3 separate regions of the Homo sapiens genome follow, and all the other regions are reported to be linked to region 2. Evidence: microRNA targets listed by miRTarBase, many of them from high-throughput screens and not tested one by one. Region 2 holds a microRNA gene; each other region holds the end of a gene's coding sequence.
What was found. Region 2 holds the annotated microRNA hsa-miR-3915 (UUGAGGAAAAGAUGGUCUUAUU, at 6,041-6,062, shown strand). A microRNA usually pairs through its seed, bases 2 to 8, with sites in the 3' UTR of a target mRNA and lowers its output. Matches are read on the target gene's strand: a 7mer-m8 pairs with bases 2 to 8, a 7mer-A1 pairs with bases 2 to 7 and ends in A, and an 8mer does both.

Region 1: miRTarBase lists PPP1R9B as a target of hsa-miR-3915. Seed matches in the 3' UTR shown: 7mer-A1 at 704-710.
Region 3: miRTarBase lists TXLNA as a target of hsa-miR-3915. Seed matches in the 3' UTR shown: 7mer-A1 at 5,404-5,410 and 7mer-m8 at 4,155-4,161.

The regions. Positions count from the first base shown.
Region 1 is chr17:50,128,974-50,135,973 of GRCh38, reverse strand. PPP1R9B (protein phosphatase 1 regulatory subunit 9B) reads left to right here. Exons shown (of 10, transcript NM_032595.5): 8 at 1-6; 9 at 325-421; 10 at 590-2,237. The coding sequence ends at 643. SAMD14 (sterile alpha motif domain containing 14) reads left to right here and starts at 5,814. Exons shown (of 10, transcript NM_001257359.2): 1 at 5,814-6,457. RefSeq lists enhancers at 2,080-2,821, 2,872-2,941, 2,822-3,564 and silencers at 5,719-5,798, 6,039-6,098.
Region 2 is chrX:32,578,731-32,589,772 of GRCh38, reverse strand. It overlaps MIR3915 (microRNA 3915), which reads left to right and starts at 6,021; the gene lies at 6,021-6,117. All of the region lies in intron 13 of DMD (dystrophin), which reads left to right. RefSeq lists an enhancer at 6,565-7,192.
Region 3 is chr1:32,193,677-32,201,768 of GRCh38, reverse strand. TXLNA (taxilin alpha) reads right to left here. Exons shown (of 11, transcript NM_175852.4): 10 at 7,609-7,704; 11 at 3,484-6,867. The coding sequence ends at 6,574. It overlaps CCDC28B (coiled-coil domain containing 28B), which reads right to left and starts at 1,174. Exons shown (of 6, transcript NM_024296.5): 1 at 1,060-1,174. RefSeq lists enhancers at 1-328, 329-848, 1,107-1,186, 1,399-1,956, 1,957-2,515 and 1 more.

The DNA of each region.
Region 1 (7,000 bases), not on the chromosome of region 2:
GCAGAAGTACGTGGCTGGGGGCTGGGCGGGCTGGGCCCAGGGAGCATTGAGAGGCTTTTGGGGACAGTCCCTCCCCATCCCTCCAGCTGAGTAGGGAGGCACAGAAGTTGGAGGGCCCCATGGTGGGGACACCCGGTCCGGAATGACCAGGCATCAGAGCCAGCACAGAGCCAGACCCCCAGAGGCTTTGGGAAAACCTGGGGCCTCCTGACCTGAGAACAGGGAAGGACAGAGTTGCCCAGGTAAAGCTGAGGACCTGGGTCACCCTGGATGAAAGCCAGACCACACACCCTTACCTGCCATCTGTCCCTTGCCTGTGCCCAGGGAGATCGAGTTCCTGAAAAAGGAGACTGCACAGCGTCGGGTTCTGGAGGAGTCGGAGCTGGCCAGAAAGGAGGAGATGGACAAGCTCCTGGACAAGGTGGGCCTGGGGCGCCCTGTGGGCAGGGCCCAGTGGAGGGAGCAGCATTGAAGCCCCTACCCTGTGGGTCCTGGAGGGAGGGGATGCCATGTCCTCACCGGGGGGCGGAAGGGGCTGGGATCATGCCTGGTGTCCAGACCTGACCCCCTACCCTCCTTTGTTTTCCAGATCTCAGAACTGGAAGGAAACTTGCAAACACTGAGGAATTCCAATTCTACTTAACAGGAATCATTCCATGACTGGACAATAATTAACCCCCCTCCCATTGTCCTCCCTCCCCTGTCCTCAACACCCCACCCCTCCCCCTTCCAGCCTGGGGACAGGTGCCCCGACTCCCCCCACCCCTCCACCCCACCTCCCCCAGCTTCAGGGACCAGAGGGCTCATATCACAGGCCCCCTTAAGATGGCCTGGGCAGACAGAGGTGGCTAGAAGGGCAGCCTCTTTCTTGCCCCATGGGGCTGAGGCACAGAGGCCGAGGGCTGCCGAGGGCTGGCCTGGTGGTCGACGGACACAAGCACCTGCAGATCAAACTGCCAGACTTTACACACTCCAGCTTTTGTCTCTGGACTGGAACGGGGCTGGGGCTCTCCCAGCATCTGCCAACTGGGGGCTGCTCCCTGCCCATGGGGCACCTGGGTGGCCCCTGGGCCTCTTGACTTGAGATTCTACCTTCTCGGCCCTTCCCTCTCCCCCCATCATTGTGCCGTCTCTGTTGCATTCTGACCCTCCCGCCTGGGGGGTGGGGGCGTTGCCTCAACACCTCCCCCATCCCTGTTCCCTGTCCTGGGAGGGATAGAGTCCACCCCAGAGCCCGGAGGCTGGGCCTGGCCCTGGCCCTGCACTGATTTCTCATGTGTCCTTCGGGAAAAGGGGGAGTGAGAGTGGGAAAAAGGGAGAGTTCAGGACACCTGGTCCCCAGCTCCCCATTGCCTGGGGCAGCAGCCCTCAATTTCTCCTTGTGCCTCCCCTCTTCCAGGTGCCAAATAGCCATAACCTCGTCTTGGAACTGTTATGTGGCCTCTCTGGGGTCCAGGTTTCCTGGTCAAGCCTGGGAATGCCAGGGAGGAAAGGGGGTCTGGCTACAGCGACCCTGGTCTTAGGCAAGGGGAACATTTCTCCCTGGAGAGTCAGGTCCTATCCTGTGCTGCCCTGTCTGCCCAGCCCAGGGCGATGCCTGGAAGCCTACTGACATTGCAGGGAGTCAGCCTCGCCCCCACCCCCTACTGGTTTTCCAATGTTTTGACTGGAGGGCAAAATTTTACTACTACTCATCTTTTTGGAGACCAGGGCTGCCCTGCTGGCAGCCTGCCTTCTAAGTGAAATCGACTCTGTTTCCCCACTTTAACCCCAAATTGGGGCTTGGACCAAGGGAGGTGAGACCACCTCCCCCAGGTCCCCTCCCCTTTCAAAATCCATCTCATTTTGCCACTTCATGCCCCTGCCCTAACTGGGTTTTTGTTCATTTTTTAAAAACAGACCACCCATCCCATCCGTTTTGGCTTCTTGTCCCCTGTAAATAGACCATGACTTCGATCAGTATTTCTTGTCCCCACCCCTTCCTATCCCCAGATGTGCCCCCATCCCCTGAAGGAGCTGGCTGTCTCAGTCCTGGGCTCGCGCACTTCACCCCGGCAGATGGAGGGGGCGGAACCGGGTGGGCGGGGCCGCTTCGGGCTGCTTGGGCCAGCGGCCACCCCTGCCCAGCCGTCGGGAGGGCCGCATCTCTGTATATAATATATATATGTATGTATTGTTCCCGGTTTTGTACGGACCATGCCCTCTGTCAGGTCGTCCCCATAAAAGCAGCCCCCAGAGCCTTGCTGCCTGGTTTCTTGATTCACTGAGGTGGGGAGTGGGCAGGGATCAAGGATGCCAGGCTGCCCCAGTGGTCCCCTCCCACCAGTGCTGCCTCTAACCCTGAGGAACTTCCTACAGTGTCCCCCCGTTTCCGGTTCCAGCAAACTGCTTTTCTGCCCCCATTCCAGCCATCAGCACCCATGCTTTTTGTCCAGTCCTCCTGGGCAGGGCTGAGGGTTTCTAGAGAGTTTGTTTAGTCTGCATTCGTTTTTCAGGGCCTCTAAGAAGTTCAAAGGATGGGCTAAATACAGCAAGGTGAACCCCAAGTCCCTCCCCCAGAAGGCCTTTAAACTGTGGGGACACTCTCAAGAGGCACCCGGTGTGAGGCAGGTAAAGGATCAAAGGATTGCTGGGGGTGGGAGGTGACTGCCTGGCAGTTTAGTACCCAGGGTCCTAGAGGATCTGTTTGCCCTTTGGGGCGGGCCAAGTGGCCTGAAATAGCCCCAGCCCCTGTGCTGGGCCAGCAGGCCTGTGTGCTGACTCACCAGCTCAAATGCTAATGGGTCTGGGAGTCTAGGTGCCAGAGTTCCAGGGACAAGCTTTGGTGAAGTCCCAGAGGGGTGAGAGCCAGCAGGGAATGGGGCAGGAGCTTATGGCAGGCCCCAGGGCCAGCCTTTCCTTGCCGGGGTGCTGGTGTGCAGATGTCAGAGACCTGAAGCATGGAGGCACTTGCACTCAGTGGTGTGGCACTAGGGAATTCTCACCTTTGCCATAAGGAATGAAGTCCCAACTTCAGAGCCCTTCAAGGTCACCTTGGTGGGTCCTTAACAACATCCAGATGAGTGGCAGCACCCCCAGGGACAGTCTGCTCCAGAAGCTTCCCTTGTAGATGGCTGTGTCACACAGGTCACATTCATGCTAAGCCAAATTCTGGCTTCCCATAGCTATCCCTCAAAAACCCTAGGTCTACACCTCAGGCCAGTCCAATCCTGCCTCCCACCTGAGGGTTGCCTGGAAACCTGGGGATAGTGAATACTCTTCCCAAGGCATCTTTGCTATGTGGACGATTGTTGGAACACTCTGGGAGCCCTAAGGATGCTGAAGACGGATCAAGGTGTCTGATCCCCAAGATCAGAGACCACCAAACCACAGGGTCAGAGGTCATGGCTCCAGAGTTAGAAGTCACTGAACCCCAGGGCCACCAAGGCCCTGCTCAGGAAACCTAGCCAAGAAGTGAAGTGGCATGACCTTCCTGTAATCTGTAGTCTTAATCTGGGTGGGGAGGCAGGCATGAAGGTTTCGAGGGTTTCTGCTGGGCCGATGGGGGCTAAGCATCCAGGGCGGGGTCCCTCTGTCCCTCCCCCACTCCCCGTCTGTCCTGTGTGTTAGGTGAGGGGCCTATACATAGTATGTTTCAAACAGTGGGCCAAGTAACCCCTCACATTTAAGCCCAAGTGTGTTGTGTGCCTGGAGGTGTGTGTGGCTTTGCTGTGAGTTTCTCAAGCCTGAGCTGTGACTTGCCCATGATACACAGTATGTCCATGTTTGGGACTTTGTCAAGTAGCTGTAAGTGGGCCTGTCACCTTAAACCCTCCTTATCCCCCCACTCACTTGCCCAATTTTGGAAGCTTGAGTAGGTTTGCCAACACTTGCCAATAAGGCAACTTATTGCCAACCCTCAGAAGCTTAGGCCTCACTAGGAATAGGGGAACAGGGGCTCCTCCTGGGTCCTATGGCCTGGCAAACATACCCATCATCTCCCCACCCCCTTGGGATGTACAGGGTCTATATAATCAAGCCCCCCACTACAGCCCACCACTCAGATCTCACCAGATGCCTACAAAGCACAACCCCTTTAAGACAGCCAGATGCAGCCCCCACAGCTGTCAACAGAAACCCCACCCCTTCCCCAGATTTCCACAATCTAGCCTCATGGCTGCCAGAAGATTCTGAAGACACCCAGAGACCCCCAAACTCCTATAAATCCCCTAGGATACCCTCAGACCCTAAAGGCTGTTAATTCTGTCCTCACTCATAGTCACAAGATTGTCCTGGTTCAACAGGCCACTTCCCGGAGGCCTCGGACTGCAGAGTCCTGTGGGCCATCAGGGAACTCTGTCCTATAGACTCCACACCTCTCCTCTGACTCTAGACCCCTGATCCAGCTTCACCACTTGCCTTTTTTTTTTTTTTTTTTTTTTTTTTTTTTTTTTTTTTTTGAGATTTGAGTTTCACTCTGTTGGCCAGGCTGAAAGGCAGTGGCACAATCTCAGCTCACTCCAACCTCCACCTCCCAGGTTCAAGCAATTCTCATGCCTCAGCCTCCAGAGTAGCGCCACCATGCCTGACTAATTTTTGTATTTTTAGTAGAGACAAGGGTTTCACCATGTTGGCCAGGCTGGTCTCGAACTCCTGACCTCATGTAATCCACCCACCTTGGCCTCCCAAAGTGCTGGGATTACAGTCGTGAGCCACTGCGCCTGGCCTTTCACCACTTGCTCTTGAGCAAAGCACTTTCCTTCTTCTAAGTCTCTGTTTTCTCTGAGGCAGTGGGTAATGGAAACACCCACCTTGTGGGTTTATTGTGAGGGTGACAATAGATGATCTGAGAGCGCCTGGCACCTGCCAAGCTGTGACGTGCGGTAGCTGGTTGTGGATCCCTACATTGCCTCCCTGGCTGGCCTGCCACTACCATCAGCGCACTGGGTCCAAGTCTGATCTCATCCGTCCCCACCCCCACCTGCTCCAGGGCTTCCTGCCTCAAGCCAAGGTCCACAGCCATCCTAGACCCCTCCTCCCTCACCTCCTAGTCCAGCAGGTCCCCAAATCCTGTCAGCTTCTTCGGTGTCAGCTTCTTCAGGCCTGCATCCTGAAGGGCTCTCAGCTTAATCTGTAATCTTTATGCCCACTGCCACCGGCCCTCAATAGCCTCCAGCGGGTCTCCCTGCCTTCAGAGTGCCCTCTGTAACCCTGTCTCCAGGGGAGCCAAGGGTGCTTCCTAAATGCACACCTGAGCCCCTCCCTCCTCTTAATTTTGTGTGTGTGCGCGCGCGCGCGTGTGTGTGTGTGTGTGTGTGTGTGTGTGGGCGGCGGGGTGGGCGGCTGGTAGAATAAAGTGCAAGCCCCCTGCACCTCCCCAGCTTCAATTTATCTTCCCCTCTTGCCCTCCCACCCCCAACACCCCCTGGCACTTCCCTACCCTGGCCCGCAGTTGTAGCCAACACATCACATCCTCTGGGAATCCCCCAGCCCAGCTCCCGCCGCGGCCGCCTGGACCCAGGCCGGGCCAGGGGTGCGCTCTCCCTTCCGGCAAGAAGTGCCCTCTGTTAGCTGGGCCCATGGCGCCCAGGCTCGTGAGGGCCTCCCCACTCGTCTGAGCCCCCGACTGGCCCACTGGCCTTGAGCGCAGTTAGGGGGCGGGGGTTCTGTTCACCGCTGTCCCCTCCAGCCTCGGCGCCCCGGCTGCTCGGCGGACGTTTGTTGAATGAATGAACTAATCGGGAGCCCTGATGGACCCGGCAGAGGAGGCGGAAGCCCCGTGGGTCCCGTGGCGGGACCGCCCCGGAGCCGCTCCCACCCGCGCAGACTCCGGTGCGCCGCGTCTCCCGCGGGCAGAGAAGTAGCTGCAACTCCGCTCCCCGGCCCCAGCCGCCTCCTCCCCGCCGCCCTCCCCCGCCCCCGCCCCCTCGCTCCCTCCCGCTCTTTGTCTCCTGGGCGCCCGGCTTCTCCGCCACGCGCCCCCCACCCCGACGCCCCTTCCCCGGAGACCCCCGCGGACCCCTGCCGACGCGACGCCGCGCGAATCGGCCCTGCCAGGCGGGGGCCCCGCGTCCGGCCAGGCCTGGCGGGCGGCAGGGGCGGGGAGGGAGGTGGCGCTCGCTCTTCGCTCTTCTCTCTCTCTCTCTCTCTGTCACACACACACACACGCACACGCACACGCACACACACACGGAGCATCCTCCCGTCAGGTCTCCTGGTCCAGCCCCGCCCGCGCCTCCTGCTTCCAGCGAACCTGTTCCCTCTCCCCACATCCCCCGCCCTCCATCTCCCCCGGCTCTGGGACCCTTCCCGCCGACCTCACCCCCACCCCCGGGATGGAGCGGCTCGAGCCCGCCCGGAGCCCCCCGCGGCCGGGGTGACGGTCCCCCCACCCCTCTCCTGCCCGGCCCCCGCCTCGAGCACCATGGGCCTGAGGGGTTCCCGGGGCGCCAGACGCTGAAGATGACCGATGCCGGAGGTGAGGGGCCGGGCGCCCTGGGGTGGACCGGGAACTGGGGCTAGGGCCACTCGGGCCCGCGGTGGGACCCTGAGTGGGGTTGGGCAGGGCTAAGCGACAAGGGCCTTTCTTCCCCTATCCCTAGGGGGACCGCACGGGGCTGGGGTGCCGGGCTGTCAGGGGAGGGGGCGGAGATAGGATTTATGGCCCTAATCCCCTCCCTCCCGCCCGACGCCCGGAGAAATTAATAAAAAGCTGGTGTGGGGGGAGGGGGAGAGGGCTTAACTCTTTCTTGCCCGGCGGGGAGTTGTGCTGATGGTTTGGAGAGAAACTAGCCACCGGGCTCTGACTGGGGAGAAGGGCTCTGAGAGTGGAGTAGGTGCCCTGTCCCCAACCTCACCCCATCTCCAACAGTGCTTTGAGGGGGTGCCCGACTCCTGAGGACTACCCCAAGCCTGGGGCCAGTGGACGGCCGGCGATATGGGAAGGGGGGACCACCTCTCTGGCTCCACAACTGCCTCCCCGACCGCTAGTCTCCTTTCCCATCCACCTCTTCCCGGCCTC
Region 2 (11,042 bases):
TGTCCTGAGGAGTTAGAATATCATATACAAATGTTACATCCTATTGTTTTAAGTCAGAAAACTCATGTTTATAGTTCGAAATGTTGCTGCTTTTTAAAAATGCAAGTAGTATAAATCAGTTGAATTAGTTTGAGATACAAAGGGTCTGACTTCCCATCTATAGATATAAATGTAAATATATATAAATGTAAGTGTGTAAAAATACATGTAATTTTGTCTATATAAAAATATATGTATAAATGTGTATATAGTTAAATTTATATACATCTCTTTATGTTTCTATATATATACATACGTACATCTTTGTGCATATGTATATATATGTATATACATACATATACATAAACATAAGCACATATGAGATAGAGTGCACATGCTTACTTTGAAACAAGCTTGATATTAAGGATGATACAGATTCTTAGTTAATGCAATCACAGACTGTGATATAGTGTCTAGATTACATGAACTAATAATTATACTCTATGCTGATTTGAATACACTGTATTTTACGCCCACGATTGGTACTCTATCTTAGCAGGATTTTCTCAGATGGCAGCATCCTGTGAAGAATATTTGTAGAGTGGGCGATTATTTAATTAAAAAATAACTAATCATAGGGAAATGGCACATGAACACTATTGTGATGGTGAAAAAGGAAGGCACTTTCTCTATGGTTTTTCAAAATGTCATAATATCAGAAGCAGACAGAAGTTGGTAACTCTGGATGTCTTCTGCCCAGATCTTTCCTGAGTCCATTTTCTTCTAATTATCTTCTGAACACATCCTTGAAGTCCAAACAACACTTCAAACTCAACAAGATGAAACTTACCTCACTGTACATTGCCTTCCTTTAAACCTGCTTTCCTTACTGAATTTCTTATTTTTGTCATTGCACTGGCACTTATCATGACACCTGTACCAGAAACCTAGAGTCATCCCCAAATTCATCCCTGTCCTTTCCCTTATGAGCCCTTTGCATGCAATGTCAAAATATTTCTCAACCTTATCTTGTATTTATTATTTCATCTTTGTTCTTGTCAACATTTCTCAAGGTATAGGCCATATCATAAGCCCCCAAAGTCCTTGCCTTCAGTCTTACCGCTCTTCCATCCAATCTCCACATTGAAGTCAGTGTGGGTTCCCAAGAGCCTGTTTAATCGTTCTCCTTTGCTTAAAATCCTGAGTCACTTTCCAGATTCTGATACTTTGGCCTACAAGGTATTTGATTACCTGACTCCTACCAGTCTCTATAGACTTGTCTCATGTTATCTGCTTTATGTCCCTCAACCTGCATTTGATTCATACAAGCTGTTTCTGATACCCTGTATGTTACGACCTCTTTGCACATACCACCGGGTTTAAACAGACGACTCTGCTTCATAAGATCTGCTTTGATAATTTCATCTATGTATAGAAAACTCATTTCAAGTTTTCCTCCATGAAATTGGCCACTCTACCTAGTGATGACTACTCCCTCTTTGTGCCATGTCTGTACCCTAATTGTGTCTGTTTGGGCACCGATCATATACTTTTGCAGTTAATATTAATGTGCTTTACTCTTTTATTAGAATCTAAATTACATGAGATGTGTCTTACACATTCTTGCCTGCATTGTCAGATACAAGTAATCAGTAATTCTTGTAAGATAACTGAATGAACCTATGAACAGACGGTTGGATATAATTCCAAGAAAGATTTTTTTGACTTAAAAGGGAGAGCTTTTTGTTGTAAGGTAATTAAGAGGAGAAACTCTAGAAATAGACCCTTCCTGCTCTGTTCCTTATCTACAGTATACCTTTGGGCAAGTCACTTAACCATCCTTGGCTTTAGTTTCCCCATCTTTAATATGAAGATTGTATTAGAACCTACATTATCAGATATCTGTAAAGGGTAAAAGGGTAGTTGAGAAGCTAAAGCATTTAAAAATCACTGAAATATAGTAAGCAATAATAATATTAGTTACTATTATTATCATCATCAGCCCAGAGCATTCTTACAATGCGATAAGAGCTGTGGAAAGTGGTGAGCTGTTCTTCATTAATAATATTTAACACAAACTGGAATCTCATGTTCAAGTATGTTTTAAAAGAGGTGACATACTGAGTGGGAAGTTAGACTTGATAGCCTCCAATGTCCCTTCCAATACAGGTGGAGTGCAAGAAAATAAAAGGAAATACTGCCCAATCTTATCTAGTAGAAGCATAATTCTCCCTCATTCTGTAGAGAACTTCAGCTTTAAAAAGCATGATTCTCAAAATTACTTTCATAAGAAAAAACAATCTGAATATAATGGCAAAATATAAAGAAGTCAAATACTACATTCTGCCAATTATTTTGACCAACAGTGATAATTTTTAAAGGTGACAAATCTGGATAAGTAGACAATAAGAATGACAGACATTTAATGGTAACATCTCTTTGGACATTGCTGTTAGTGTCGTTAATAGTTTTAACTTGTGTAACATGAGTATCACACAGGTTACAAAGGGAATGTGCTATATCTCAGTTACAAAGAGAATGTTAAAATAACAAAGCCACTTGGAAAGAAAATGCTATACTGTGAAAGGTAGTTGTTCAGAAAGACGATAAAGTCAGATTTTTCTCTCATCACCTAAATGTCAGTTAGGTAACTGAAATTTTTATAGTACATATCTTCGGGATAGTATGAGAAAGAAAATTTTATAGAATGTTAGACCCTATCAAATTAAGAAATAGAAGTTATTTATGAAGAGGAATATGGTTGAAACATTTTGATGTTTCGCTCTAGTTCCTAATTTTATATTTGGTGAATTAAATGCATTTAAAAAAAACTTTAAATGTGATGGAAATAATCCACAAAGCTAAGCATCAACATTTGTTGCCCAAGAAGCAATAATTATAATTATTAGATTATTATTTTTCAGGAGTTTTACATGCTTTGTATGTAATGCCAACCCTATATCACAAATGAGAAAGCCAATGCATAATGAAGTTAAATCCAAGTTCATATAGCTTGCAGGTGGCAAGGCTGACACTGGTATTCAGATGTGTGACAACTCAACCTGAGATTTCTCCCAATCTCTCAAATTCATAGTAGAAATTTGCTATGTGGCCTTGTGAAAATTATGTGATTTTTTTCAGTTTTGGTTTACTAATCAGCAACGGGGGAATACAGAAACCTATGTAACACAGTAATGTATTCGTACCTGTAAATTTAACTCATTCATGCAAATACTATCTATCTGTATAAAATGCAATATCTATTCATATATATATGAATAGATATAGCATTTGCATGAATGAGTTAAATTTACAAGTACAAATATATATAATATAAACATATATATTTATTTATTTTAGCACCTGTCCCACTCAATTGCATTAGTACATAAATATTTTTCTCTTCTAGAACAACACTGTTCTAGAAGAGAATGGTTTATATATGTATATAGTTTATATAAGCAGTATATATATATTAACACCTGTCACACTCGATTGCATTAGTATATAAAATTTTTTTCTTTTCTAGAACGACACTGTTCAGTAAGGAAGTTGCTATACACCTTTGGCTATTTTGAGCACTTGAATTGTGACTGGTATGCTTGAGGAACTGGATTTTTTATTTTATTTACTTAAATATAAAATGGCACATGATTCAGTTATTAGAAAACTTTTGAGTATGTTTTGATCAGCTTTGATATGTGCATTGTTTTTTCAACTGCACATTGTATCAAGTATAAATAAATGTTGAATATTCTAATGAAATTTGAACATCCAAAGCCAATGTGCTGTAAGTATACAGTTAACGCTAGATTTCAATTTATGTTAATACACGGTCTGTTGTAATACATTTGGCCAATAGGGTGTTAGGTAGATTTGAAAGAACACAATGTCTGGATTACTCAATCTGTTTTCTATTCTGACTTTATAATTTATGAGTTGAACAATAAATTCTCTCATGATAAAAATTATCAAATGAAACTCAAAGATAACAGTGATCATAATACCCACCATACAAAATTACAGGGGAAATATAAGCAAGTATGCTGGAACAATAATATTCTTTTTTTTTTTTTTTTTTTTTTTTTTTTTTTGAGACGGAGTCCTGCTCTGTCACCCAGGCTGGAGTGCAGTGGCGCGATCTCGGCTCACTGTAAGCTCTGCCTCCCGGGTTCATGCCATTCTCCTACCTCAGACTCCCGAGTAGCTGGGACTGCAGGCGCCTGCCACCACGCCTGGCTAATTTTTTGTATTTTCTGTAGAGATGGGTTTCACTGTGTTAGCCAGGTTGGTCTTGATCTCCTGACCTCGTGATCCGCCAGCCTCGGCCTCCCAAAGTGCTGGGATTACAGGCGTGAGCCACCACGCCCGGCCACCCGGCCAATAATATTCTTTATGAATGCAAGTGTTAATACATTTACAAAAAATTTTTAAGTTTATTGATACATAATATTTGTACATACTTATAGAGTACATGTGATATTTTGTTACACTGTTGTATATAATTATATAGTCTTCCTACTCTGCTATCGAACATTAGAACTTATTCCTTCTATCTAAGCGTATGTACCCATTAAACAACCTCTCTTCATTCCATCCACACACTCTTCCCAGTCTCCAGTATCTATCATTCTAATCTCTAGCTCTATGAGATCCAATTTTTTAGCTCCCACATGTGAATGAGAACATGTGGTATTTGTCTTTCTGTGCCTGCTTATTTAACATAATGACCTCCAGTTCCATTTATGTTGTTGCAAATAGCTATATTTCATTCCTTTTTATGGCCAAATAACATTGCATTATGTATATATAACCTGTTATCTGTTTATCTGTTGATGGTTCTGAAAAAAAAATGCAAACTTTATGGTACTTTTTAAATTGAAGTATCAAGCAAAGGACATAAGTTATAATTATAGCTTAAAGACTTATTACAGAAGTAACATACTATGATTCCACATCCAGAAAAAGATAGTATGTTACCAGCAACCAGGAAACCTCCATCAAGCCCTATGGTATCATAAACTCTTCCCATCTCCTCAAAGGTAACATGTATCTTGAGTTATAATGCTGCAGGTTAGTCTTGCTATATTTTTAACTTGATGTAAATGAAACTTTTATATATGCAGTTTTTTAACTGGCTTTTTTCACTGGATACTATATTTGTGAGATTCACTATGTTGCATATAGCATTACTTTATTAATTTTCATCGCTGGATAGAATTACTTTGTATGAATATACCACATTTTACATATTCTGTTCAGAAAATTGGGGTTGTTTCCAGTTCGGAAGCATTACAAATAATTCATCTATCAACATAAATTGTACGTATATTTTTGTGTATATATGTAAACTTTTGTATTAGGTATTTACCTAAGAATAGCATTTCTTAATCATTGGGTATATGCATATTTAGCTTTCAAGATATTAACAAAGGGTTTTCCAAAGTTGTATAAATTCATATTCTCACCAGTAGTAAATGAAAGTACAAACTGCTTCATATCTTCTTGAATACTTGTTTGTTAAACTTTTTAATTTGAGCCTTTCTGGTGACTTTATAATGTCATCTCTCATTTTTCATTTGTATATACTGATGACCAGTGAGGCGGAATACTATTTCAGTTGTTATTGGCCATTTAAATGAACTCTTCTCTGAAATGCCTGTTTTTCTACTGGATTTTCTATATTTCTCTTACTGATTTATTTTAGTTTAAAATATATATATTCTGGGTATTCTTTGCTGTTTATATTACATTTTTCTTTTTGAATGGGTACCTTGCCTTTTCACTCCGTAATGATATATCTCTTCATAAACAGAAGTTTAAATTTAACATAGTTCACTTCAATATTTTCTGTTATGTTTAGTGTACTTTTGTCCTCAGTTTAAAAATAAAACTCTCTACTTTAAAATTCTGAAGCTATGGTCCTGGGTTGCTATATAGGAACTGTTTGTTTTACCTTTCGTATTACAATCCACCTATTATTACAGGTATGAGGAAGGGATGAATGTCCATTTTTTCCCATATAGATCCAACTGAAACAACAAGTTGGCACTGTAGAATATTGAGGAAAAGATGGTCTTATTGCAAAGATTTTCAATAAGACCATCCTTTCCTCAATATTCTGTGGTGTCATCTTTGACGAAAATATTAGAAATAAAATGCCTATACGTGCATGGATCAGTTTATGGACTCTAATCAGTTTTATTTCTCTACTTGCCTGTCCTCATGCTAATTCCACATTGTTTTAATTACTATAGCATTATGACAAGTTTTAATATATGGTAATATTTTTTTGAGATGGAGTTTCGCTGTTTCTACCCAGGCTGGAGTGCAGTGGCAAGATCTCAGCTCAATGCAACATCCGCCTCCCTGGTTCAAGCAATTCTCCTGCCTCAACCTCCTGAATAGCTGGGTTTGCAGGTGCCCACCATCATGCCTGGCTAATTTTTTTTGTATTTTGAGTAGAGACAGGGTTTCACCATGTTGGTCAGGTTGGTCTTGAACTCCTGACCTCAGGTGATCTGCCAGCCTCGGCCTGCCGAAGTGTTGGGATTGCAGGCGTGAGCTACCAGGCCCAGCCTGTATCTGGTAATATTGTAAAAGAAAAAATGCACCAGACAAACAGGCAAGAAAGACTTTATTCAAGACTACTGAATTATGGATCAAGACTATTGCCATAGGAGAGAGAGATGGAAATCATTTCTACTGAAAGAAAGACAGGAGAGAATTTAAGCACTGAGGAGAGCTAGTAGAAAAATACTGGAAGATATTAGGGGGTTAGGATGGTGATTAGGCAATCTGTGATTGTTAATTGGCACTTAATGAAGTTAGGCTCCTACTGTCCCACAGAGACTGGGAGATAGGCGTGCTATCATTAACAATTACATTTCAAAGAGATGGCTCCTAGGTCCTTGAGAAAGATATTCCCGGATTGTAGAAGATTTACATCTCAAAGAGGCAGAGAATATGTTTTTGGTTGCAAGTTTCCCTAAAGTAAGCGCTCTAAGAAAAGAGAGGTCAGGAGCCTATAGTCAAATAAAAGCCTGTCTAGAGTTTAGTCACATTAAGTTTGTTTTGGTCAGTTGGTCAGTAAAAGCCATTTTATTTTCTTCCTTTTTAAAGATTATCTTGACTGCTTTTGGCCATTTCGATCTCCATATGAATTTTAAGAACAGCTTGTGAACCCTGCCCCCAAAAAGAATCTGCTGTGGTTTTAATTGGATTTCATCTATTCTCTGGATCAACTTGTACAGAATCAACATTTTTATTATGTAAAGTCTTTCAATCCTTTCATTTAGTTAGGTCTTTATTTTCTCTCAATAATGTTTTATAGTTTTTAAAGTAAAGGCTCTTAAACTTTCTCTGAGATTTATTTCTTGGGTTTTTATATTTTTGCTGTTATGAATATATTTTTGAAATTTCATTTTCTATTTGTGCTGATATAAAGAAATACAGTTGATTTTTTTTCTTGGTCTTGTATCCAGGTACCATGCTACATTTACTTAATAATTTGAATACATTATCTGTAGTATTATTCAGATGTACATATATAGGTTGTTTTTGAGTAATGACAGTTTTCTTTCTCCCTTTCCAATTATTTTTCATGTCATTAATTTTCCCTGACATATTGTACTGTATAAATACTCTAGTACAATGGGAGTATTGTGGATATTTATTTCTCATTTTAAGTCTCAGAGGGAAGAACTTTAATAAATAATCATTAAGTATGATCTTTCCTGTAGGTTTGTTGTAGATACCTTCTGTTCTTAATATTCTAAGAGGTTTTATCACTACCGGATGCCAAATTTTATCATATATTTTTCCAGAATCATTTGAGATGGTCGTATTTTTCTTCTTTATTCTGCTATATGTCAAATCACATGACTTAGTTTTCTAATGCTAAAAAAGCCTTTCTTCCTGTAATAAACTAAACCTGGATAAGACGTATAATCTTTTTTGTGTATTGCTAGATTTTCTTTGATTCATAGTTTTTCCTTTACGTCCATGAAAGTGATTGGCCTGTTATTTTCCTTTCTTGTAATATGCTTGCTAGGTTTAAGTACCTGATTATGCAGGCTTGGTAACTGGCTTCATAACTGGAATTTGCAAATGGGAAATTTTAAAATTAAATTTTTATGTATTTAATACACATAAAAATGTCCATTTTTAATTGGAATTTCAACATTACATTTTTCCAGATTTTCCGTTTTGGAGTCAGCTCGAATCATTTGTGTCTTTCTAGGAATTGGTCTATTGCATCTAAAATTACAGATGTATTTAGATAAAGTTCTATTTAGTCCCTATGGTATTTAATAGTAGTTTATTAGCTACCATTGTTTGAAATTGAAAAAAATGTGACATGAACTAAGAATTTCTAACCTCTCTAGAGAAAGCAAATGATCTGATGATCCTTAGTCTGTTTTTCTACATAGTAACCAGAGCAGGAGTCAAGTTGCCCTGTTTTCTCTAGCACAGGCTCTTCATTTAGCCACAGTCCCCATTACTACCTATTCTGTTACACCTACATTATCTTATGCATTTTATTAGGTATGTACGTTAGAATTTGTGATTTCTTGTGGATGAAAAGTTGTGATGTCAAGAGTTGGCATGAGACATAGAGGGATATTTATCTTCTATGCACTTGCTTTCAAATAAGATACCTTTTGGAGCCCGTGCTCAGTGGCTCACGCCTGCAATCCCAGCACTTTGCGAGGCCGAGGCGGGCAGATCACTTGAGGTCAGGAGTTTGAGATGAGACCAGCCAACATGGTGAAACCCCATCTCTACTAAAATACAAAAAAGAGCCAGGTGTGGTGTCTCACACCTGTAATCCCAGCTACTTGGGAAACTGAGGCACAAGAATCCCTTGAACTTGGGTGGTGGAGGTTGCAGTGAGCCGAGATCGCGCCACTGCTCTCCAGCCTAGGGGACAGAGAAAGACTCTGTCTCAAAGAAAAAGAAAAAAAGGATACCTATTGGAATATGGCCCTGTTGTTTAAAATTGTAAAGGTAAAAATTTTCAATTCTTGTATAAAACATAAGCTTTATCAAGTATAGAAAAAAATGCAAAAAAAATTATCATTAATTGTCCTTCTAAAATGTTTCACTGTGTTCTATATTAAAATTCTATCATGCTCCAGATTTATCACATCTGGAATAAAGGCTGATTTTTTTATCGACTGAGCTCTAAATCCTTACTATCACAAGCATCTCAATAATTCATCACAGATTTAAGAGCACTTTCACATTTATTGATCTATCTGACCCTAGCAGTTACCTGTCTAGGAGAGTCTGTACTATTATCTCTATTTCACTGGTGAGAAAACTAAAGCACAGCAAGATTGAGTTTGTTCACAGATATTACAAAGTTGGGCAACAGTAGAACTGAAGTGGGAATGCAGGAAGTTTATACTTTATGTAATGATTAGCAGATTGAAAGATCCAAAAAAGATGGTTCTAAGACAAAAGTTGGGTGGGGAAAGCCACCTATTGATAACGACAGTAGTAGTATTCAGTTTTGGGATATTTGTGCAAGACATTAACCTCAAAGGTAAGGAGCCCACCTCAAGGAGCTCAGAGTCTGCGAGGTATAAAACGATAAGGAAGAGGAAACCTCAAGCTACCAAGGAATGCCTGGGAATGTGATGAATGCTGGAAGGAACACTGTTACGCTGGAATGCTCCTTAGAACTCCTGCTCTTTATTTTCTGGTATCCCAATTGAACAGACTGGTGGGAGCTGGAGAGTACAGAGTTTATTAAGCTGCCAAAAAAAAAAAAAAAAGACATTAAATAATATCCTGCAAAGAATAACAGCAGTGACAACAACAAAAGGCTTTTCCAGATTTATTCATTAGCACTTTGTATACTCACACAAATAAATAATATAGGAAACTGACTGAAATAGCGTAGAGAAGAACATGCTTCTTCGTGTTAAAATCTCACTACACTTTCAGCACAATTGCAAAGGCAGAATTTAATGAACAAATCAGTCATACTTACCTTTTAAAAATAAGTCCTGCAAAGGCCACATGTTCTTAATCTGGAAGTGCAAGTATTTGCTGACGTTTTATGATTAAACAAATACAGAGTTACAGTGTCAAATGTTTTTGAATCAAATTATAACATTAAGCTTCACATCCTTGTGAAGCAGATTAGATTAAATGTTAAATCTAGTCAAACTTCTGCTAAAACAAAATATGAAAAGACTCCAAAGGGATTCGGCATCTGGATATCTCACTGTAGGTTGTGTAGCACAAATTAGAAGGCATATCTTTTATAATGAATGCCCTACTGAATGAATACCATTATGAACGAGCATGAACTTGTAGCCAAATGGATCTGAGGTCAAATCCCAGACACTCAGTACTGTGGCTTCTGTGACCTCAGACAAGTTACTTAACCTATCTGTCAGTTTCCTCATCTGTAACCTGCCCCTTTGGAAGTGACAGCTAAAAATTCCTTGAGTTCAGACAGGAGATTATTACAGGATCATTTAAATAGAAGTAAGAATTATACTTTTGAAAAAACTTCCAGTAGTTGTTTCATAACTCATCAAAATAGGTTTATCCGCCCTGTACCATATGTTATACAGTGAAGATATAAGGTACACCATTTTATAGTATGGTGCTTCAGTTCAGTTTGTAGAAATGTGTAAAACTGAGAACCAAGCCATACCCTTGGCTAAACACTATTCAGTAGGACTCTGCCACATTTCTGCCTCATAATGGATTTTTGTTTTTTTCAATGGTTTTTGATGTGATTTCCATTTCAACATCAGTAAGAGTAAGTTGCTTATACGTTTTAACTGCATAGTTGTTGATAAAGTAAGAGAAAAATCAAGAAATAAGGGATTTTCAGAGGGCTCATTACACATAAAATTCATTTAGCAGAGAAGTGTATTATAGGGTCTTAACCTGCAATAAAATAAGATGGGTTGTTTTCTGCCTCCCTCTTTCATAAAGCCCCGTTGCTGATGCATTGTGTGGTCCATGGCACATAATTGTTTCCGCCTTAGTGGATATACGCCTGGGAACACTCTATCTCTTAACGCCAATACTGATGG
Region 3 (8,092 bases), not on the chromosome of region 2:
GTGTCTGCTGCTGGGATCGTGGATGTACACTTGAAGGACCTTCTAAGGCCCAACCTAATTCCCCTTCTGCCTGAAAACCTAGGCCCCTCCTGAAAGGGTGGGACCAGTCACAACTATCTTGGCGCTACTGGGGCTTCCTGTCACGGTGGCTGGGGGGCGGGGCTGGCAGAGGAAATGTAGTGGGAGACAAGACGGAGGTGAGCTGCAGAAGCCCAGCCGAAGATTAGGGATGTCTTAACTAAACCCTATTCTATTTATCAGGGGCCTAAGCAGATGCTAACAAACCCTGTCAGCATGGGAGGGGGACAAGGTGCAGGTAGGGGCGCCTGGGAAAGCCCCAGCGTGTGGGTAATTGTAGGAGAAGCCGCAGCATACAGGGCAGGGTTCATTGTGGGTTTCCCCCACATAGACACCGGCATCCCTCCACTTCCACCCACCCCCAACCGAAAATATTAGGGACTCCCTATAGGTCCCGCGGGTGTGCTTTCAGCTGCTTCATTTTTCCCAGTCGGAAAGTCCCTGCTGGGCTTCAGCTGCAGCCAGGGTGGACTGGGTGGTTGGCCGCTGGCTGCCTGGGCCTCCGACAAAGGCTGCGCCTGTGGCTGGGCTGCTCCGAGGTCCCCGGTCCAGCAGCGCCCCCCAAGCCTCCGGTCGGCTGGGGTTCCCTCCTCTGGGGGTCTCATTCCAGGCTGCTGCTACCGAGCCTAACTTCGAATTCTGGGACTGGGGGGGTTGGGGGGGTGGGTGGCGCTTAAGCATTTACACTGACACATAGCTGGCTGCCACTGACGGGGTCTGCGGGTGTGGGGAGGGGAGATAGGAGCGCATCCTCTGCCTCTCCGTGCAGCAGCTTGACCCAATTAGGGACCTGATAGAAGAACTGGAGCCGGAGCCTGTGCTCCCCAGGAGCGGCTGGGGCGACCGGGGATCTATTTCCCAAGCCCGGGCTCCAAAGCCATGTGCCAAACTCATCGCTCAGCTCCGCAGCCGCGCTCGAAGACAGAGCGTCAGACCCGCGTCATTCCGCCCCCGCCCTCACTCCCTCAGGGGGCTACTGACCTGGAGGTTTGGGGTCTCGAGTGATGCTTCGGTGCAAGTTCCCTCCGCCCTCCGCCCTCTCCTCCCGGGAACACCACCGGGTGAAAGCTAAGCTGGAGGGAGTTCATTTGCATTTAAAGAGAAAGTGACCTTCTCCTTAGCGCGGTGGGGTGAGATGGGAGGAGCATCCCCGCGTATGCTAAGCAGTTCCTCTCACTCGACCTCACCTCCCCGCCTGAACCTAGGGGACCCTGTTGGTTGTGTGATGTCTATTTTAAAAAGATTTTCCCTTTCCCGGCAGTTTCAGAGAGAAGCTACAGTTCCTTACAAAATGGTGGTGGCTTTGTCAGAAAGGGGGTGGGGCGGGGGAGAGGAGAGACAGAGTGAGTGAGTGAGAGAGAGAGAATGTAAGCACAGAAGAAGCACAAGCAGCAACAGCAGCAGCATCAGGAAGACACTTCGAGCAAAGACAGCCATCAATGGAGTGAGTCCAGTGCCCTATTGAGCACTTTACATACATTTCATCCCCATAACAACCCTTAAGGAAGATACCAGTGTCATTCCCCATTCTACTGAAAGTAAGCAACAGTCTTTTGAGGGCAAAACCCCTCTCTCTACAATGCCAGACAGTTTTCTCTGGTAAGTGGTGGGGGCTGTATTTTGCCGCAGATGAAGTGACAGGAGTCCTCCCCACCCCCCAGGCCTAGGAGACAGGTGTGGGGAGCACCAGGTCATAAGGTAGACCACGCGATTCCCTGGCACCTGACTCCAGTCCTCAGGGAAACCTGAGCACCTGATGGAGGCTGACCCAGTGTGACTGCTGCTGCCTGCAGCCAGATCAATGGGGGCAGCTATTTAAAGCCCTGGCAGAGGCTCCTGGCGCAGGTCCCCAGAACAGCATCTGATACAACAGGAGAGAGGCTCATGTTTGGCCAGGCGGCTCAGCAGGCTCAAGTGAGCTGGCCCAGGGCAGTGCACACAGCCACCCAGCCCACCTTCCCCATCCCCGGGCAGGAGTGGCTTCCTGGGGTTGGGCCTCTTGGCTGATGTGGGGAGCCATGGGCACTGCTCCTGAGGGCACCTGCTCAGGGCTTCTTCCTGGGTACTTCCAACACTCAGAACACTCCACAAGGGTAAAGAGTAATTCCGAACTTTTTCAATAACCAGGGGCCCAGACTGGGGACAACAGAAATCCCTCTCCTTCCCCACCGGAGCTGCTAGAGTAGACAGTGGTAATGCTGCTGACAGAGGGAGCACCCCTGTGGTTCCCATCCTCAGCTGCTTCACTGGGGGGTCAGAAACCTCATTATTCTCAGAGCTGCTTTGCTTGGAATCTCCAAGAGTTGGGGCGGCACCCCCCCCACACCCTCCAGAGGATCTGCGACTAGAAATAACATGGCCAGCATGGAAAACATGTATCAGGACCCAGCTAGAAGGGTCAGAGGCTCTGCTGGGACTGTCACAGTCATTGTGGGCACATCTATTTGTGGAGGCCTGGAGGGAAGGGCAGGTGGGTTGTCTCTGCCATTTCCTGGGCATTCAGCACATATCATCCTTTGTGCCTGACCAACCCAGGACCCAGAGAGAACAGGGTGCTGGGTGAGGCCACCAGCAGCATGTCTCCCATATAGGAGTCCCATGCTTGAGGTGGGTAAATGGGGGGTGTAAAAACTGAACAGAGAATGTGCTCTCCTTAAGGAATGCATACAATTAGAGGCCCCTGTGAATTCCCTTGGGCAGGCCAGGGCTATAGGAGCCTACCCACAGCTCAGACCCAAATAGCAGTGATGAGTGTCCACCCCTCTTAACCTGGGCCTCAAATGGCCTATGCCTGGCTCCATGCCTTTTGCCTTACTGCTGGAGCCTATCAATTTCCTATTGAAACACCTTCAGTTGCCCCCCCTGCCCTCTGGATCTAGCCCACATTCCTTAACCTGGTACCCAGACTCTGGGCCCAGCCTCACCCCCTCTCCCAGTCCCATGGACCTGCTTCCCAGCTGTACCATTTAATCACTAAATGACGTTCATCTTCTACCTGCCCTGTGGTTCAGAAGGCCATTCCAGGTATCACCCCCTCACCTTGCTGAAGGGGGCAGGGGCCTCCTCTCTGCTCTCAGCACCATTGACCTGTCTATAGCTAAAAGTACCTTTTCCCTTCACTAGCCTGTGAGCCCCCAGGTCAGGGAAAACTTTTTTGTGTGTGTGTGATCCTCTCTGAGGCAAGGGTCTTGCCAACTTTGCCAAGGGCTCCACTCAGGCAGCTCAAGTGAATATGCCAGCATCCTGAGGCTGTGGCGACTGCTCAAAGACACTGTGGAATATGTAAGATACCAGGGAACCACCATGGGCGCTCTGCAGCAGACCTGAACAAGTCAGTGATGATGGAAGGGGCTGAATGGATCAGATCCAGAAACAAAGGAATACACAGGTCAGGAGAGAAACAAGTAAGGCAACAGACTCTTTATTTAATGTGGTTTAAAATACATCAAAATCAAGTCCCTGGCTGTTGTGAATACCCAAAGGAGACAAAAAAGCTGCCAGTGCAGCTTCAAACAAGTCTGAGTGGCCGGGCTGGGCCATAAGGAAAGCAGTTACAGGGACAGAAGGCAGCTCCCTTCCCCCAGGAAGGGCAAGAGGAGCAGGTGCCTGGCTGTCCCTGGGGTGACCACCTCTGTGCTGTGCAAGGCGGAAAGGCTGGGGCAGCAGCTGGAGAATCAGCTCAGCAGGCCTTGGCCCTCCCCCGTGGACACCAGGCAGCTCCACTGGCCTCCGGGTCAGCCCTCAGGGCCACCGTGATGGGGTGGAGGAGGGTTAAATAACCATCTTTACAGAAATAACAGTCTCCTACAGAAAGTGCCTGAGCTCAGCCCATGGTCCGATAACCTCATGGAAAACAAACAACAAATAAAAAAAAAAAGTGCTGCTGACACCTCTCAGAATCTGGTGGACATGAAGCTCTCAGCTGGACAAGGCCCTGAAAACAATTTACTATTAGCAGAGCCATGCGCTCTTGAGCTTCACCTGCTGTGGTCCCCTGGAGGAAAAGCTAGCAATCTAAGAAACCAACACAGATCTTGGTCCTAAAACTGAGGTCACAAGTGTGGGACCCACCCAGGTGAGGAAGACACTGGCCTTCACTCATGGATAGGCACCTCCCCTGCATCTGGCCCAGGACCTGGGCTACTTTGGAAAGCAGAAGCAGAGCAGCTGTAGTGATTGGTTGATTTGGTCAATGAAGAGAAGAAAAAGGTAGGGAACCTCATCTGCAGACTGGCCTGAAGGTCTAGACATGGATGGAGCTGTGAGCAAAGGCTGCACCTTGCCTGGGGCCCACATTCCTGACCTGGGAAACCCAGCTGGGGCCACCTGCTCACTGTGGCCTCCTACACCACCACACTGGGATCCAGCAGCTCCAGTCCCTCCACAGGCATTAAGAGGTAGCTGAAGTGTGAGTCAGGCAATTATGTGGGCCACTGTAGGCCTTTCCCCTCTCTTCAAGGGGGAAGGTGCATACCTCTGCCTCTTCCCTGCACCTCTCTCGCCTAGCAAACACTCTGTGAGGTTGGCAGCTCTTGTACCAGCTTAGCCTGGCACAGGGGCTGGGGTAGGGAAAAGGCCCTACTGGAGCAGGAAGAGGCAAGGACTACTCCAGACAGAGGGATTCAAAGGGGAAGAAAAAGGTCATGGGAAACACTTCACAGGACAGCAGTATCTCAGCCAGAGATGGCAGAGATCTCAACACTCACACAGCTGCTTGAGGGCACCTAGATGTGAAGGATACACCAGAGAATAGCAGGCAACTCTGATGCAGATCAGTGGTACCTGCCCTGGGGCAGGAGAAGGAGAAATGGTGTGCCATTCATTTGCCATCTCTGGTCTCAGTCACACATGATTCAGTACTTAACATTCTTTGTGAACCAACTTATCTGAGAGATTTAAGGTAAGGGCTAAAAGAGTGGGCTAGGTATGGAAGATGAAGGGACCTGCAGGACAATGAACTAGCTTCAAAGAAAAACAGCAAGAAGCAAAGCCCTAACCATCCTATCCATCTTGGTCTGAGTCATTCTGTTGTCCCAGAAAACTGCTTGGCACAAACACTGGCTAATACCCTGGCAAGTTTGCAACAGCAGAACATTCAGCATATAGAATGGCTCTACACAGTACATAGTAGTTATGTACTGGAGTGGGGGTAGAACAGGACACAGAAACAACTGTCTGCAGCCATTTTATGGATTTCTGGGGCCCAGTCAATAGTTCAATTTCATTTCTTACCTGTTAGACAACAGCTATGGGCTCCCACACAGGAAGAAGTAGAATCCCCAAGGACAGGCAGGGAGGTGCCAGGAAATAGAATCAGGACAAATCTTGAGGATTGCACATGTGGGGGTGGGGGCAGGAAGCAGAAAAACCCATGAAGCCAAAGAGGCAGCTGGACATGGGACCCAGCAACTGCTGCATGGAGACAGTGCTGATGGGAACTGGTGGTGGCCTCTCAGGACTGAAACCCACAGGTAAGCTTGTGGCAAAGCCATCAGAAGCCCTTTCCTTTCTTTTACCACAAACAACCTGATCTCACCAAACAGGAAACCTCAGCATCAAGATGGCAAAGGAGCCAAGTGGGGTGGTGAAGGAGGTGGGACACTGGAGGCCAGGCACCCAGGCACCACTGCTACAGCATCCCTCTTCCTTGGAAGGTCCTCAATACAAACACTGTCATGTGCAAAAAAAAAAGAAAAAGAAAAAAAAAAAAAAAGAAAAAGAAATAAAGAAAAAAACACCTTCAGAAATAATCCTTTGGGTGATCTCTTGTCAATCATTTGTGCAGGCTAGAGAGGCACCTGTGAATGATAAGGCTACTGAGAAGCATCATTGGCCTGGTCCTGGCACTACCAAAGGGCAGGGGAAGCGATGCCCAAGGGGCTCCTGACCAGCACATCATCCCACGCAAAAACATTCTCCAGGTCCCTTGTTCCAGGCAGGAAATCCCCAGCTCTGAGCGCCCTGCCAGGGCTCTGCCTAGGGACACCTTTTCCAGGTCTAGAGAATCAAAGGAGCCTCCAGAGCAGCTAGGAGGGCCTGAGCTGACCAAGCAAGCCCTGCTCACAAGACAAATGCAGTCAAGACCTGGGTGTATTACTTGTCTTGAGCTCTGAAGGGCAGGGAGGGGTCTGAGCCTCAAATCAGACAGAGAAATGCTCAAGTCACTTCTGCCAACTCACTGTGATGGCAGCTACAGATGACAGCCCCTCTCAAGACTCTTCAGCTCACAGACAAGCCACTGACTTCATCTGTACACACCCCCATCCCCAATGCAAGCCCACTGTACACTTACAGGTATAAATGCATTTGCAAGGCCTTGCAAAATGCCCTATGTACGTAAAACTGACCCACAAAATCCAAAATTGCAAGTGCCAGATGCCAGCCAGGTCAGAACATCCTGGCTTCAGCAATGGGCTGCTCAGCATGGGAGCCTTTTATGGGCCAGGCCTGGCTGGGCTGCCGCTCCCTTCCCAGCATGACCCAACACCAGGCTCTCTAGGCCCTGGCGGAGGTGGGCTCTTGAGGCCCAGTCTGGCCTGATGCTTCTGTGCTCGGTGCTCCTGGGTAGCAAGGCGCTTCTGTGACCCTGGGGGAGCTGGGTGCTTGAGCCCCAGGCCCCTCTGGCCTCCTCTCAGGGCCACTGTCAGTGAGGGAGCCCTGGCCACCAGCACTCAGGTCCTGTACCCTCTTGTTCAGGTCATTGCGCTCTGTCTGCAGTGCCCGGCACAGCTTCTCCAGCCGTTGGATTTTTACCTGCAGGCCCTCCAGTTCTTTATCCCGGACTGTTTTCTAGGGAAAGAAATGAGACCTTCAGTGCCGTGCCCCATCAACCTCCCACTTACCATCACCACTTGGCGGCAAACACTTTAACAAGGCTGAGAGCAGACCGAGTCCAAAGCTGGCCCCCTCTAGGAAACAGTCCTAGTTGAAGCCATGACTAGGCTGTCAGGTGGGGCAGCATGGTGCAGAAAAGGGGCACGGCTTGGAGATAACGTATTCCTCCATTTATCTACCACGTGACCTTGGCAAAGGACTTGACTTTTGAGCCTGTCTCATCTATAAAACAGGACTACTAATACCATCCTCAGAGCTCAAGAGAAGGTTCAATGAACAACGTACCTAAAAACATTCAGCAGCAAAAAAGACAAAAAAAACCCAAAAACTTTCAGCAAGGTCTGGCTTGCAGTTGCTGCTCCATCGTTAGTTCCTTTCTTCTACATTACAAGCTGTGAAATCACAAACTACCTGGGCTGCTTTACATGTAAACCAGGCACATCACTGGCACCCGTTTTTTTCTGCTCTTTTATTCCTTTCTTCCATTTGCTCCCTTCACTCCCACTGGAGACCTACCACTGGGCTCACCACCTCCCATGGGGAGAGAACAGCATTAACTTTGGACTTGGACATTGTGTGCAAATCTCACCTCTACCTCATGCTAGCTGTGTCACTGATGGGTAGAACATACAGGAAAGGGCCTGATATGCGCTAAGTGCACACCCCCACCCTGGCTGCAGATCACAGACAGCCCACCTCCTCAGCCATCTCAAGCAGGGCCTTGTTGCTGCTCTCCCACCGGGACCGGTACATGGTGGTTTCTTTCTCCAGCTTCTTGATCTTCTTAGTCATCTAGGTTATGTGACAGACAGAAGGAAATGGTCAGAGCTGGCCTCTCCAAGGTCTGTGTCTCCAAGGTGGGGACTGCACCTGTGTCTCCAAGGTGGGGAATGATTGATCCCAAGGCGCAAGGCATTACAGGATGCAGTCAATGCCCTCTGTGCCACCTCACCACCAGGAAGTCAGAGGTGTCCACCACCAATAACAAGGAATGGTAAGGGGCCAGGCATGGTGGCTCACGCCTATAATCCCAGCACTTTGGGAGGCCAAGGCGGGCAGATCACTTGAGGCCAAGAGTTCGAGACCAGCCTGGCCAACATGGTGAAACCCCGTCTCTACTAAAAATACAAAAAAAAAAGAAAGAAAAAATTAGCCAGGCATGGTGGCACGCGCCTGTAAT